Linked DNA regions of Homo sapiens: region 2 is reported to be linked to region 1. The links are microRNA targets in miRTarBase. Many come from high-throughput screens and were not tested one by one. Region 1 holds a microRNA gene; the other region holds the end of a gene's coding sequence.

The links. The annotated mature microRNA hsa-miR-4670-3p reads UGAAGUUACAUCAUGGUCGCUU and lies in region 1 at 1,849-1,870, shown strand. An mRNA with a match to its seed (bases 2 to 7 or 8) in the 3' UTR can be bound and repressed. Matches are read on the target gene's strand: a 7mer-m8 pairs with bases 2 to 8, a 7mer-A1 pairs with bases 2 to 7 and ends in A, and an 8mer does both.
Region 2: the mRNA of STAM is a reported target of hsa-miR-4670-3p. Seed matches in the 3' UTR shown: 7mer-A1 at 1,646-1,652.

The regions. Positions count from the first base shown.
Region 1 is chr9:92,522,861-92,529,860 of GRCh38, reverse strand. MIR4670 (microRNA 4670) reads left to right here and starts at 1,803; the gene lies at 1,803-1,877. All of the region lies in intron 5 of CENPP (centromere protein P), which reads right to left. ECM2 (extracellular matrix protein 2) reads left to right here. Exons shown (of 10, transcript NM_001393.4): 2 at 6,968-7,000. The coding sequence starts at 6,995.
Region 2 is chr10:17,713,635-17,721,212 of GRCh38, forward strand. It overlaps STAM (signal transducing adaptor molecule), which reads left to right. Exons shown (of 14, transcript NM_003473.4): 14 at 909-3,190. The coding sequence ends at 1,146. Among named protein-coding and RNA genes, the nearest start is that of TMEM236, 35 kb to the right of the region's middle.

The DNA.
Region 1 (7,000 bases):
ACTGTATCAGAAGAGTTTCACTGCCCTAAGAATCCTCTGTGTTCCACCTATTCATCCCTCTCCGCCCCAAATTCACTATTCTTTTATAGCTTGCATAGTTTTGCCCTTTCTAGAATGTCATAGAGTTGAAATCATACATATGCCATCTCAGGTTGGCTTATTTCATTTAGTTATATATTATATGCATTTAAGGTTCTTCCATGTATTTTCATGGCTTGATGGCTCATTTCTTTTTGGTGTTGAATAATATTCCATTGTCTGAATATACCATAGTTTTTTTTCCATTCACCTATTGAAGAACATGTTGGTTGCTTCTAAGTTTTGGCAATTATGAATAAAGCTCCTATACATATCTGCGTGCAGGTTTTTGTGTGGACATAGATTTTCATCTTATTTGGGTAAATACCAAGGGGCACGATTGCTGGGTTGTATGGCAACAGTATGTTAAGTTTTAAAAGAAACTGCCAAAGTGTCTTCCAAAGTGGCTGTACCATTTTGCATTCCCACCAGCACCGAATGAGACTTACAGTTGCTCCACACACTCACCAGCACTGGGTGTTGTCAGTGTTTTGGGTTTTAGACATTTGGTAGGTATGTAGAGGCATCTCATTTTAATTTGTAATCTGTCTACTATTTTTGAAACTAATATTTAGGATTGAAGTGTTGAAATTTTGGATGACAATTGTGGATTTGTCTATTTCTTTTTGCAGTTTTTGAAAACAAGTTTACCAATTATTTTTGGTAATGTCTAATCTGCTATTCATCCCTTGTCATGTATTTTTTCTCTCTCACATTGTAGTTTTCATCTTTAAAAGTTTGATTTGGGTTTTTAAAAATATCTTCTATGTTTCTACATTACATGGTTAATCCTTCTTCTCACTTCTTGAACATATAGAATATAGGTATAATGATTTTTAAACACCTACTTTATTAGTATATCAGCACTGTCATTTCTGAACTGGTTTCAATAAACTGATTTTTCCCATTATGGGTCAACTTTTCCTGTTTCTTTGTGTACCTGGTAAATTTACATTGGATCCTAAAACATTTGTTGGGTTATCTGAGACACTGTCAAGTTATTGTACGCAGTTTAATTCTTTCAGAAAGGCTTGCTTTTAAGCTTTATTAAATGGGATCACAGCAGCCTTTAGCCTAGGGCTAATTATTTTCCTCTACTGAGCTAATGCTCTTCTGAGTACTCTACCAGATGCCCTGTGAATTGTAAGGTTTTCCACTCTGACTGGTGGAACACAAACTCTTCCTGGTCTTTTTTAAGCTCCAGAGACCTGTTTTTTTTGTTTTGTTTTGCTTTGTTTTCCCCTTTGTCCTTTAGGTTAGTTCTTTTCCCAGTCTCAAGTATTAATAGTTTACTTACATACATGTGCTATCCAGTACTCAGTGGAAGACTTCACATCTCTGGAAGGGTTCCTCTGGGCTAGCTCTCACCTCTCTGTACTCTGCCCTAGGAACACTAGTCTCTTTGGTGTCCTCAGATTTCCAGCTGTATCTTTTCAACTTATGGAGACTGCTGGACTCTGCCTGTGTTCCCCTCACTGCAACTCCCTTGAGGGAGTAAGCAGGTCAATCACAGGTCTCTCCGGGCATTTGATTTGCATCCCCTTTCAGGGATCACTGGCCTGGACTGCTCTTTGTTTAATGTTTGGAAAATGCTTCAGATATATGTTGCTCTATTTTTAAGTTGTTTCAGGTGGGAAGGTATACGTAGTCCCTATTACTCCATGTTGGCTGGGAGTCAGATTTGATAAGTTTTGTCATAATACTGGTGTAATGGCTGAATGATTCTCTAGGAAGCGACCATGATGTAACTTCACAGACTCTCCAAAAGTCTGAAGTTACATCATGGTCGCTTCCTAGAGTATCATTCTACTTCATGGAGCCACTCTGGTTACTAGTTGTCAAACTAGTAGGAATGTTGTTATGGCAATACAGGGAAGGTGATCTCCACAAAACCATGCTCATTTTCTTGGCCTTCAGGTGATATACTGTATGCAGAATGTAAAAAATAGGTCAGTTAGTGACATCTGTACTTAGGCCAAGGACCCAGGATGGCAGCCATATGTTTGCTACTACCATTGTAGGTTTCTACTAAGAAACAATCACAATATTTGCCAAGACTTAGCACTGATCACCCTGCATTTCCTAAACATTTGGGTGGTAGACACTGTGGCTTGAGGAAGGCATTCATTACCCTGAGCTCATGCTCATGGTTTTCAGTTTAGATACCCTTGGAATTTCCCACAGCTTGTCTTAGGTTGTGAAGCAGACTTCTAAGAATCTGGATATCAACAAATTACAGTCATATGTCACTTAGCGACAAGGATACATTCTGAGAAATGTGATGTTACATGATTTTGTTGTCATACATCATAAAGTGTACTTACACGAACCTAGATGGGACAACCTACTATACACCTAGGCTATATGGTAGAGCCTATTGCTCCTAGGCTACAAACCTGTACAGCCCATGACTGTACTGAAAACTGTAGGCAACTGGAACAGAATGGTATTTGTGTATCTAAACATATCTAAAGCCAGGTGTGGGGGCTCATGCCTGTAATCCTAGCACTTTGTGAGGCTGAGGTGGGTGAATCACTTGAGCTCAGGAGTTTGAGACCTGCCTGGGCAACATAGTGAAATCCTGTCTCTACAAAAAAAATATAAAAATCAGCTGGGCATGGTGGCACGGGTCTGTAGTCCCAGCTACTCGGGAGGCTGAGGTGTGAGATTGGCTCGAGCCCAGGAAGCGGAGGTTGCAGTGAGCTGAGATGGTGCCACTGCACTCCAGCCTGGGTGGCAGAGCCAGACCCTGTCTCTAAATAAATAAATAAATAAATAATAAACATATCTACACATAGGAAAGGTATGGTAAGAATATGGTCTAAAATAATTTAAAAAATGGTACACTATCTAGGGTACTTACCATGAATGGAGCTTGGAAGACTGGAAGTCACTCCGGTGAGTCAGTGAGTGAGTGTGAAGGCCTAGGACATTACTATACACTACTGTAAATTTTATAAACACTGTACACTAAGAGTCTACTAAATTTATAAAAAAGTTTTTTTATTTCTTCAATAATGAATTAACCTTAGCTTACTGTAATTTAACTTTATATACTTTTTATTTTTTAAAAAATTTTGACTCTTTTGTAATAGCATTCCTCTTTTTTTTCTTTGTCTAAAGGCTTCTTGATTTTTTTAATCGTTTCAGAAAACTTTTCATTTCATTCCTCTTTTCTATAGTTTTTTTGGTTTCTATTCTGATCTTTATTATTTCTTTTTTTCCACTAATTTTGGGTTTGGTTTGCTGTTGCTTTTCTAGTTCTTTACGATGTATTATTAGGTTGTTTATATGAAGTTTTTCTACTTGTTGATGTAGGTGTTTATTGCTGTAAACTTCCCTCTTAGTACTGCTTTTGCTGTATCCCATAGGTTTTGGTGTGCTGTGTTTTCATCTTCATTTGTTTCAAGAATTTAAAAAAATTCCTTCTTAATAACACTTGGCTTAAAACACAAATACATTGTACAGTTGTACAAAAATATTTTCTTTCTTTATAGCGTAATTTTGTAAGCTTTTTTCTATTTTTATTTTTTAACTTTTCAAACATTTTTGTTAAAAACTGAGACAAACACGCATTAGCCTAGGCCTTCATTGGGTCTGGATCATCAATATCACTGTCTTCCCCCTCCATATCTTGTCCCACTGGAAGGTCTTCATGGGTAATAACACTCATGATAAGAATGCCTTCTTCTGAAATACCTCCTGAAGGAACCACCTCAGGCTGTTGCGCAGTTAATGTTTGTTTAAATAGATAGAAGGCATGTACTCTAAAACAATGATAAAAAGTATAGTATAGTAAATACATAAACCAGTAATATAGTTGTATATGAAAGTATTATGTACTGTACTGTACATAATTGTATGTGCTTTTTTTTTTTTTTTTTTTTTTGGAGATAGAGTCTCTCTGCACTCTGGGCATGGTGGTGCATACCTGTAGTCCTAGCTACTCAGTGCAACCTCCGCCTCCCGGGTTTAAGCGATTCTTCTGTCTCAGCCTCCCGAGTTGCTGGGATTACAGGCGTGCACCACCACACACAGCTAATTTTATATTTTTAGTAGAGATGGGGTTTCACCATGTTGGGCAGGCTGGTCTCGAACTCCTGACCTCAGGTGATCCACCCACCTTGGCCTCCCAAAGTGCTGGGATTATAGGCTTGAGCCACCGCGCCCAGCCTGTGCTGTATTTTTATATGACTGGAAGTGCAGTAGGTTTGTTTATACCAGCATCACCACAAACATTATGAGTAATGCGTTATGCTATGATGCTGTGACGTCTCTAGGCAATAAGAGATTTTCAGCTCCATTATAATTTTATGGGACCATCATGGTATATGCAATTTGTCACTGACAAAAAAGTCATTATGTGGTACATGACTGTACTTTCTTTGGTCAAATGGTCAGACAGAAAGATTGAGTCAAATGCTTGCAGGGTCTTTCAGGTTTTTTCTTTTCTTTTTTTTTTTTTGAGACAGAGTCTCGCTCTGTTACCCAGGCTGGAGTACAGTGCTGCAATCATTGCTCACTGCAACCTTGAACTTCTGGGCTCAAGTGAGCCTCCTGCCTCAGCCTCCTGAGTAGCTAGGACTACAGGTATGCACCACCATGCCCAGCTAATTTTTTATGTTTTAGTTGAGACAAGGTCTTGCTATGTTCCTTACTCTGGTCTTAAACTCCTGGCCTCAAGCAATCCTCCCACCTTGGTTTCGGCCTCCTATAGGGCTGGGATTACAGGCATGAGCCACAGTGCCTGGCCTCTCAGGTATTTTCTGAGGTTCCAACAAGATGACTGGGTTAGCAGTCTATGGCCACTTATCCCTTAATCCTTCAATGCCTCTCCTTTGCAGTTTAGGGTATTCATCTCTGTATGTAACATCACCTTGAATGTTTTACCATTCCTTCCTATCATAGATTTGTTCTGGTTGGCAAAGGAGACCAAGGTATGCCTGTGAGAATTGAAATAAATTTCATCACTGAGCAAGTTAGTTACTTTAACCTTCTAGAATCACCAAATACCTTAAATTCCCATTAAAAAGATAACAGCGGCAAATCTGTTGTGATCTGGGTTCTTATGATCCCTGGGGTTTTAGTTTCTCCTCCATACTGGCTGTGTAAGGAAGGCTTTTCATCTCAGGAAACACTGACAGTGAGTGGACCTGAGGCAAGAGCAGGAGGAAAGCTGCAAGGGGTATAGGTGTGTGTATGTGAGTATGTGTGTGTTTCTCAGCTGTAGAATTCTGAGAGGCAGTCAAAACTGCCAACCTTCCTTTGTAGGACTAACTTTAGGCCAAGAGAGATTGGCTGAGTGAATCCTTTGATGACAGCTGCTGCAACACCTTGATGGAGGTTTCTCTTGTCCCTGGCCACCAGACTTCACAGGGATTGCGCCAGTCTGTCTGACCATAATGCTACTACTGTACCAAGAGTGCCTAAATATTCATTTCTTAAATGTTTTTCAGCTTTACCATGTGCAAGGCCCTATACTAACCCTGAGACCAGCTAATTAAAGAGTTACTCTTCCTGACTCTTACCTCCTTATAACTGATGCTATTGACTGTTATTTTTATATGGCACCATCACGCCCTTCCCCCCAGACAATTATAAAGCTAGAGAATAAAAGCACAAAACAGAAAACGGCTGGGAAAATGGGTTGTGGATTACATCAGTCACAGAACGTCTTAGCAAACAGGTGGAGAGAAATCTCCCAAGTAATCTTTGAAAACCTGCAGAACAGTAGGGCCCAGAGAGGGGGCCATGTCTGATCCACCACCTTTACTGGTAATGAGTTTCCCTGGAACACATCCATGCTCATTTGTTTACAAATTGTTGTTGGGGAAAAGGCTTATGGAGTGCCTGCATAAACTGGCCATAAAAATATGGGACAATAAGTTGTGGAAAGCCACAAGAGGTCTCTGAGGAGGAAAGCCTTCTTATCGCCGTTATGTTCCCATGCTCTGAGTGCAACCTGCTCTCTTATCTATAAACACTGTGCTCAAGGAGAAAGACACTCCTCTGAAACACTGAAATGTGGACAGACGTACAGGCTCCTAGTTAAGCCCGCTCCTACTAGCTACTCTCCAATAAGTTAAAGATATGCTGTTTAAGCACAAAGGAGATTCATTTAAACCGCTACTGCTATAGATTACGCCTATGACATGCTGCCTCCCTTTCACTGTTTCGCCCTAAACATCTGCTTCTTAGATCTAAGTGATTGTACTCAATAAATCGTGTGGAGACCAGAACTCTGGGCCTTTTGCAGCCTCCATTGTGCAACTGGCCCCCTGGCTCCCATCTTTATGAACTCTTAACCTGTCTCTTCTCTTCCTTTGTTGCCACAGGGCTTTGGGTACCCTATGGGTGGTGTTGAGGCTGGTCCCCAACATATTGTCTATGGCTGCTTTCATGCTACAATGACAGAGCTGAATAGGTATGACAGAGAAGGTGTAGCCTATGACGCCTCAAATATTTACTATCTGGCCCTTTATAGAAAAAGGTTTCTAATTCCTGGTCTAAAGATAAAGGTAAGATACAAAAAAGTTCTGAACAGGCATGGTGACTCATGCTGTAATCCCAGCACTTTGGGAGGCCAATGCAGGAGGACTGCTTGAGCCCAGGAGTTCAAGGCTGCAGTGAGTCATGACTGAACCACTGCACTCCAGCCTGGGCGATGGAGCAAGACCCCATCTCTATTTAAAAAAAAAAAAAAGTTTTTTGATTCTGATAGAAGAATTCCAAATTATGATTTGGCAATAATACTATAGCATATAGTCCATATATCATAAGTGTAATTTCTCAAAGACTTGCCTACTGAGGCATACAAGCAAATATATAAGCCAATTTTCAGAAGTAAAAATTTAGTCACCACTAACTTTGAAATATTGTTTCATTCTAGAAATTGGCTGGTGGAAAAAAATCAAACATGAAG
Region 2 (7,578 bases), not on the chromosome of region 1:
TATCATATTTTGAAGGCATTATCTTCAAAATCTATCTAGACTCTGACCCTTTCTCCCATCTCCACCATTACTGCCGTGGCTCTTCTGCTGGTCGGCTCTCTCCTGGTGGATCGTAATAACCTGCAGTCAGCTATCCTGGTCCAGAGGGAGCCCGTTAAACCCTGTGGAATCTTATCACGCTTCTGCTCAGAACGAGCCAGTGTCTTTCTGTCTCACTCAGAGTGTAAGCTACAGTCCTTATTGTGGCCATCAGGTGCTGTGTGTTCTCCAGCCCCCTCCCCACCACCGCAGTCCTGCCGGTGATCTTAGCTGCTCTCCCCTCGGCACCCCCTGCGGCCCCCTCTGCCGCAGCACTCGTGGCCTGCTGTTCCTTGAACATGCTTGGTGTTTTCTCTCCTCAAAGGCTTCTTTCTGTTTACCTGAAATGTACTTTCCTAGGGAATCTATCTGGCTCACTCGCTTACTTTTTCCACATCTTTGCTTAAGTATTGCCTTATTGGAGAGGCACCCTACCATAAACTAGAATCCCTTGCCCCAGCTGCTCTTTGTCCTCCGTATTGGGCTTTGTTTTTGTTCTTACCAGTTAGAACCACTTGACACACGATACATGTGTTTGTTACCCTTTTCTACCACTAGAACAGACGCTCCATGGTGGTATAGACTTATTTCCGCAAACCACCCCCCCCAACTTTTTTTACACAATGGTTAAATAACACACATATTTTTAATGCAATGCCTGATATCACAAAGCCTAAAATAACAATGTTTGGCACATTATAGCTGTTTAGTAAAAGGTTATTAAATGAATTGACTATATGAATGAATGCTTAGTAAATAGCTTTTCCATTTATCTGTAGTTGCTCTATAAATCAGTATTGATGTAATTGAGTGTTTTTCTTCCTCCACAGTACAATGGTCAGTTCCGTTCAAGGAAACACATATCCCAGCCAGGCGCCAGTATATAGTCCTCCTCCTGCCGCTACTGCTGCTGCTGCAACTGCCGATGTCACTCTGTACCAGAATGCAGGACCTAATATGCCCCAGGTGCCAAACTATAACTTAACATCATCAACTCTGCCTCAGCCCGGAGGCAGCCAACAGCCACCTCAGCCACAGCAACCATATTCTCAGAAGGCTCTGCTATAGGACCCGGTGTTCCTCTTGGTGGCAGATACCTGCTAAATGCCACTGACAATGTTATGAGATTCATTACTATCTTAAGATGTGTTTATCCTCAGCTTATAGGAATCTCTCCAGGTCAACAGGTTCAAATATTCAAGAAGGTAGAACTCTCCTCAATTTACACTGACTTTTTAGAGGTTCTTCCCCCCCCGCCCCTGCAGAGGAATGAAACTACTTACAACATTTAATTCCTTTCATAATATGAAAGAATTGATACAAGGCTATTTGTCTCGTAAACCTGGTCTGCAGAAAGTCAAACTTACAAAAACTGTTGTGACAAATGTTATGTACATATATTGATATGTAACTGCATTAGTGGCCATTTTGAATCACAGTGGTGATCGTGTGAATATATTTAACACTGTGTTAAATTAATTTACGTTGCTATTTTATTTTAATCATAAACAACTACCATGTTTCTTAATGTTTTGTGTAAATTTAAGGTAATTATACTATCCTTTTAAACTTCAAGAAAACAAAGTTGTTAGCGTATTTACATGAAGGCGCATTATGTTGTCGTGTGTTTCAGTTTCACATTAAACTGAACCTTTTACTAATTGTGAGCTAAAGAGATATATATATATATGTGTGTGTATATATATATATCTACATGTCTTTCTGTAGCCTCTGCATACTACTGGCTGTCATCACACCAGCGTACAGTAGCTAAATTTTTGGTGCAATTATAGCAAATGATAATGTTCCCTTTTGAACTTTTACATTTTGGCATGACATTTCAGAGTATTGTGGGACCATGAGACAAAATTAAGTACGATCACATTCTTTATTTCTCATTTTAAAGAAATGATGTTGGTTTACCTTTTCCTAGTTGAAGATAGTAATTAGGTTTCTAAGCTGTATACTGTGTTTATTGGTGGCAGTGACACCAAAGATAGAGGCAATGGATAGAAATTTTTAAACTGGAAAGAAAACCTGAATTACACTACATTTTCGAAGTCTCTTGTAATTATTTGGGATATCAACAAAATTTGATTCGTCTGTCTAATCCCTTGCTAGTATTTTAAATATGTCTTTAACACATTGTATCCTTTAATTCTTCATTAAAATGGAAATAAGTAGATGTTTCAAAGTAATCTACATTCCTGGCTTTGCTTAACGTTTATATAGGTATTGTTTTCTTTCACACTGGATTTTTGGGTTGCTCTTTCTGGCCTTTTAAAATTCTAATGGAATTATTTTGGCTTCTTACTTGGGAATATTTTCAAATGAATGCTTTTCTTTTAATTCATGCGAAAAATGTTTTCCACTGACATTGTAATCTTAAATATTTACGATTTCCCTGGTTGGGCTATACTATTATTTTAGCACTATTTAAACAACGGAAAAGTTGAGTCGAACATCATATTTAATGAATTGATGTAACAGGTTTCATACTATAAATGAAAATTTCATTTTTATTTTCTAAGACTGTTGTAATCAGGTAGCTTGTTTATTTTCTTTTTGAGAGAAGATTAAATCTTTAGCCAGTAATCTTAAGGGTGACTAATTTCACAGACTCAGATTTAAAGCACCGTAGTTTTAAATCTGAGCCTGTGAAATTAGTCACCTGTAAGATTACTTAAGGGTAACTTAAGTGTTTCGCTCAAGTGTTGTGTTCTGATTTCCTGTGTTTAAAATATGTTGCCCTGCCCTGAAGTCAAATTTCACATTTTAAATACTATAAGTTAGTTTTTGATAAATATCTGTCGGATTATAATCTTTTCCACTCCAATTTGAGTATTATGGTTTAACTGATATACTTTTCTGCAATTTTTCTTTGTCTTTTGATAAATTCCTGTTTACCAATGTTAAATGTATCATTTTCCCATTTTAATTTTGATATCTTTCATGCTGAAAATCAATGACATAGTCTCTACTATGATTTTTGCCCTATAAAAGTCAAGTAACAGTGAATAGAAAAAACTACCCTTATTACAACCCATATACATTTTTCTTTACCTTTTACATTACTAGCCTTATAAAGGTTTAAATGATGAGTACTTTAAAACTGTTACTGTGTTAGTTTATGCCTTCCCATTATTAAAAATGAAAATACCAGGGGGAAAAAATCCAATGAAAGTGAAGCACTGGCTTGTCTTTCAAATGACAAGACGAGGGTAGAAATAGGAGGGGGCCAGTTAGGATCATGAATGACTTTAAGTTCTGAAACCTGCAGGTCTTGCACTTTCAAGAAATCTTTCATTAATAGCTGTCCTTATTTTGAAGGAATAGAATAATTTATAAAATGAACTAGCTGTAACATAGGCTGGACGCAGTGGGTCACACCTGTAATCCCAGCACTTTGGGAGGCCGTGGCGGGCGGATCATTTGAGGTCAGGAGTTCGAGACCAGTCTGACCAACATGGTGAAACCCCGTCTTTACAAAACTACAAAAATTAGCTGGGCGTGGTGGCAGGCACCTGGTAATCCCAGCTACTCAGGAGGCTGAGGCGAGAGAATTGCTTGAACCTGGGAGACGGAGGTTGCAGTGAGACGAGATCACGCCACTGCATTCCAGCCTGGGAGACAGAGTGAGAAATAAATAACTGTAATGTAAACTGCTGTGAAGCAAATTCTATTTCTCTTTTTTTAAAAAATAAAATTTGAGATTGGTTTTCCGTAAAATAGTGACACGTAAATGGAAAAAATCTAATCCAGTTACGAACTAGCATATATAGCCAACAGGCCCATGGCCTGTGATGTTATACCAGTGCCCTGAACCTGTAAGAGGATTTCTAATGCATACCTAATGTGACTTTACAGCCTCTTCTAACTCCGTCTTTCTCCTTCACTGTTACCTATCTTCCCTATGCAGCGAGGGAACTTTTTATGTGCCTAAGATTCCTTTTTTCATGTACTTCTGGTGCTTTGTTTCTATACCTCATAGTTTTTGTATTTAAAATGCTTAATAGACCAGTGTCTTTTTTCTCTGATACATACAGCTTTCCTATGCGATATGTATAATTCAGTTTGAAGACATGTTTTTTCCGAAGCTTCAAGTTGATGTGAGACAAATTAGCACCCTACACGATAAACTATGCAACTATAAAAATTATGGAAATTGCCCATGCCTGTGTCCTGAATGGTAATGCCTAGGTTTTCTTCTAAGGTTCTTATGGTTTTAGGTCTAACGTTTAAGTCTTTAATCCATCTTGAATTAATTTTTGTATAAGGTATAAGGAAGGGATCCAGTTTCAGCTTTCTACATATGGCTAGCCAGTTTTCCCGGCACCATTTATTAAATAGGGAATCCTTTCCCCATTGCTTGTTTTTCTCAGGTTTGTCAAAGATCAGATAGTTGTAGATATGCGACATTATTTCTGGGGGCTCTGTTCTGTTCCATTGATCTGTATCTCTGTTTTGGTACCAGTACCATGCTGCTTTGGTTACTGTAGCCTTGTAGTATAGTTTGAAGTCAGGTAGCGTGATGCCTCCAGCTTTGTTCTTTTGGCTTAGTATTGACTTGGCGATGCGGGCTCTTTTTTGGTTCCATATAAACTTTAAAGTAGTTTTTTCCAATTCTGTGAAGAAAGTCATTGGTAGCTTGATGGGGATGGCATTGAATCTATAAATTACCTTGGGCAGTATGGCCATTTTCACGATATTGATTCTTCCTACCCATGAGCTTGGAATGTTCTTCCATTTCTTTGTATCCTCTTTTATTTCCTTGAGCAGTGGTTTGTAGTTCTCCTTGAAGAGGTCCTTCACATCCCTTGTAAGTTGGATTCCTAGGTATTTTATTCTCTTTGAAGCAATTGTGAATGGGAGTTCACTCATGATTTGGCTCTCCGTTTGTCTGTTATTGGTGTATAAGAATGCTTGTAATTTTTGTACACTGATTTTGTATCCTGAGACTTTGCTGAAGTTGCTTATCAGCTTAAGGAGATTTTGGGCTGAGACAATGGGGTTTTCTAGATATACAATCATGCCATCTGCAAACAGGGACAATTTGACTTCTTCTTTTCCTAATTGAATACCCTTTATTTCCTTCTCCTGCCTAATTGCTCTGGCCAGAACTTCCAACACTATGTTGAATAGGAGTGATGAGAGAGGGCATCCCTGTCTTGTGCCTGTTTTCAAAGGGAATGCTTCCAGTTTTTGCCCATTCAGTATGATATTAGCTGTGGGTTTGTCATAGATAGCTCTTATTATTTTGAGATACTTCCCATCGATACCTAATTTATTGAGAGTTTTTAGCATGAAGGGTTGTTGAATTTTGTCAAAGGCCTTTTCTGCATCTATTGAGATAATCATGTGGTTTTTGTCTTTGGTTCTGTTTATATGCTGGATTACATTTATTGATTTGCATATATTGAACCAGCCTTGCATCCCAGGGATGAAGCCCACTTGATCATGGTGGATAAGCTTTTTGATGTGCTGCCGGATTCGGTTTGCCAGTATTTTATTGAGGATTTTTGCATTAATGTTCATCAAGGATATTGGTCTAAAATTCTCTTTTTTTGGTTGTGTCTCTGCCAGTCTTTGGTATCAGGATGATGCTGGCCTCATAAAATGAGTTAGGGAGGATTTCCTCTTTTTCTATTGATTGGAGTAGTTTCAGAAGGAATGGTACCAGTTTCTCCTTGTACCTCGGGTAGAATTCGGCTGTGAATCCATCTGGTCCTGGACTCTTTTTGGTTGGTAAGCTATTGATTATTGCCAGAATTTCAGAGCCTGTTACTGGTTTATTCAGAGATTCAACTTCTTCCTGGTTTAGTCTTGGGAGGGTGTATGTGTTGAGGAATTTATCCATTTCTTCTAGATTTTCTAGTTTATTTGCGTAGAGGTGTTTGTAGTATTCTCTGATGGTAGTTTGTATTTCTGTGGGATTGGTGGTGATATCCCCTTTATCATTTTTTATTGCATCTATTTGATTCTTCTCTCTTTCCTTCTTTATTAGTCTTGCTAGTGGTCTATCAATTTGGTTGATCCATTCAAAAAACCAGCTCCTAGATTCATTAATTTTTTGAAGGGTTTTTTGTGTCTCTATTTCCTTGAGTTCTCCTCTGATTTTAGTTATTTCTTGCCTTCTGCTAGCTTTTGAATGTGTTTGCTCTTGCTTTTCTAGTTCTTTTAATTGTGATGTTAGGGTGTCAATTTTGGATCTTTCCTGCTTTCTCTTGTGGGCTTTTAGTGCTATCAATTTCCCTCTACACACTGGTTTGAATGTGTCCCAGAGATTCTGGTACGTTGTGTCTTTGTTCTCGTTGGTTCCAAAGAACATCTTTATTTCTGCCTTCATTTCGTTATGTACCCAGTAGTCATTCAGGAGCAGGTTGTTCAGTTTCTATGTAGTTGAGCGGTTTTGAGTGAGTTTCTTAATCCTGAGTTCTAGTTTGATTGCACCGTGGTCTGAGAGACAGTTTGTTATAATTTCTGTTCTTTTACATTTGGCGAGGAGAGCTTTACTTCCAAGTATGTGGTCAATTTTGGAATAGGTTTGGTGTGGTGCTGAAAAAAATGTATATTCTGTTGATTTGGGGTGGAGGGTTCTGTAGATGTCTATTAGGTCCGCTTGGTGCAGAGCTGAGTTCAATTCCTGGTTATCCTTGTTAACTTTCTGTCTCGTTGATCTGTCTAATGTTGACAGTGGGGTGTTAAAGTCTCCCATTATTAATGTGTGGGAGTCTAAGTCTCTTTGTAGGTCACTCAGGACTTGCTTTATGAATCTGGGTGCTCCTGTATTGGGTGCATATATATTTAGGATAGTTAGCTCTTCTTGTTGAATTGATCCCTTTACCATTATGTAATGGCCTTCTTTGTCTCTTTTGATCTTTGTTGGTTGAAAGTCTGTTTTATCAGAGACTAGGATTGCAACCCCTGCCTTTTTTTGTTTTCCATTTGCTTGGTAGATCTTCCTCCATCCTTTTATTTTGAGCCTATGTGTGTCTCTGCACGTGAGATGGGTTTCCTGAATACAGCACACTGATGGGTCTTGACTCTTTATCCAATTTGCCAGTCTGTGTCTTTTAATTGGAGCATTTAGTCCATGTACATTTAAAGTTAATATTGTTATGTGTGAATTTGATCATGTCATTATGATGTTAGCTGGTTATTTTGCTCGTTAGTTGATGCAGTTTCTTCCTAGCCTCGATGGTCTTTACATTTTGGCATGATTTTGCAGCGGCTGGTACCGGTTTTTCCTTTCCATGTTTAGCGCTTCCTTCAGGAGCTCTTTTAGGGCAGGCCTGGTGGTGACAAAATCTCCCAGCATTTGCTTGTCTGTACAGTATTTTATTTCTCCTTCACTTATGAAGCTTAGTTTGGCTGGATATGAAATTCTGGGTTGAAAATTCTTTTCTTTAAGAATGTTGAATATTGGCCCCCACTCTCTTCTGGCTTGTAGAGTTTCTGCTGAGAGAGCTGCTGTTAGTCTGATGGGCTTCCCCTTTGTGG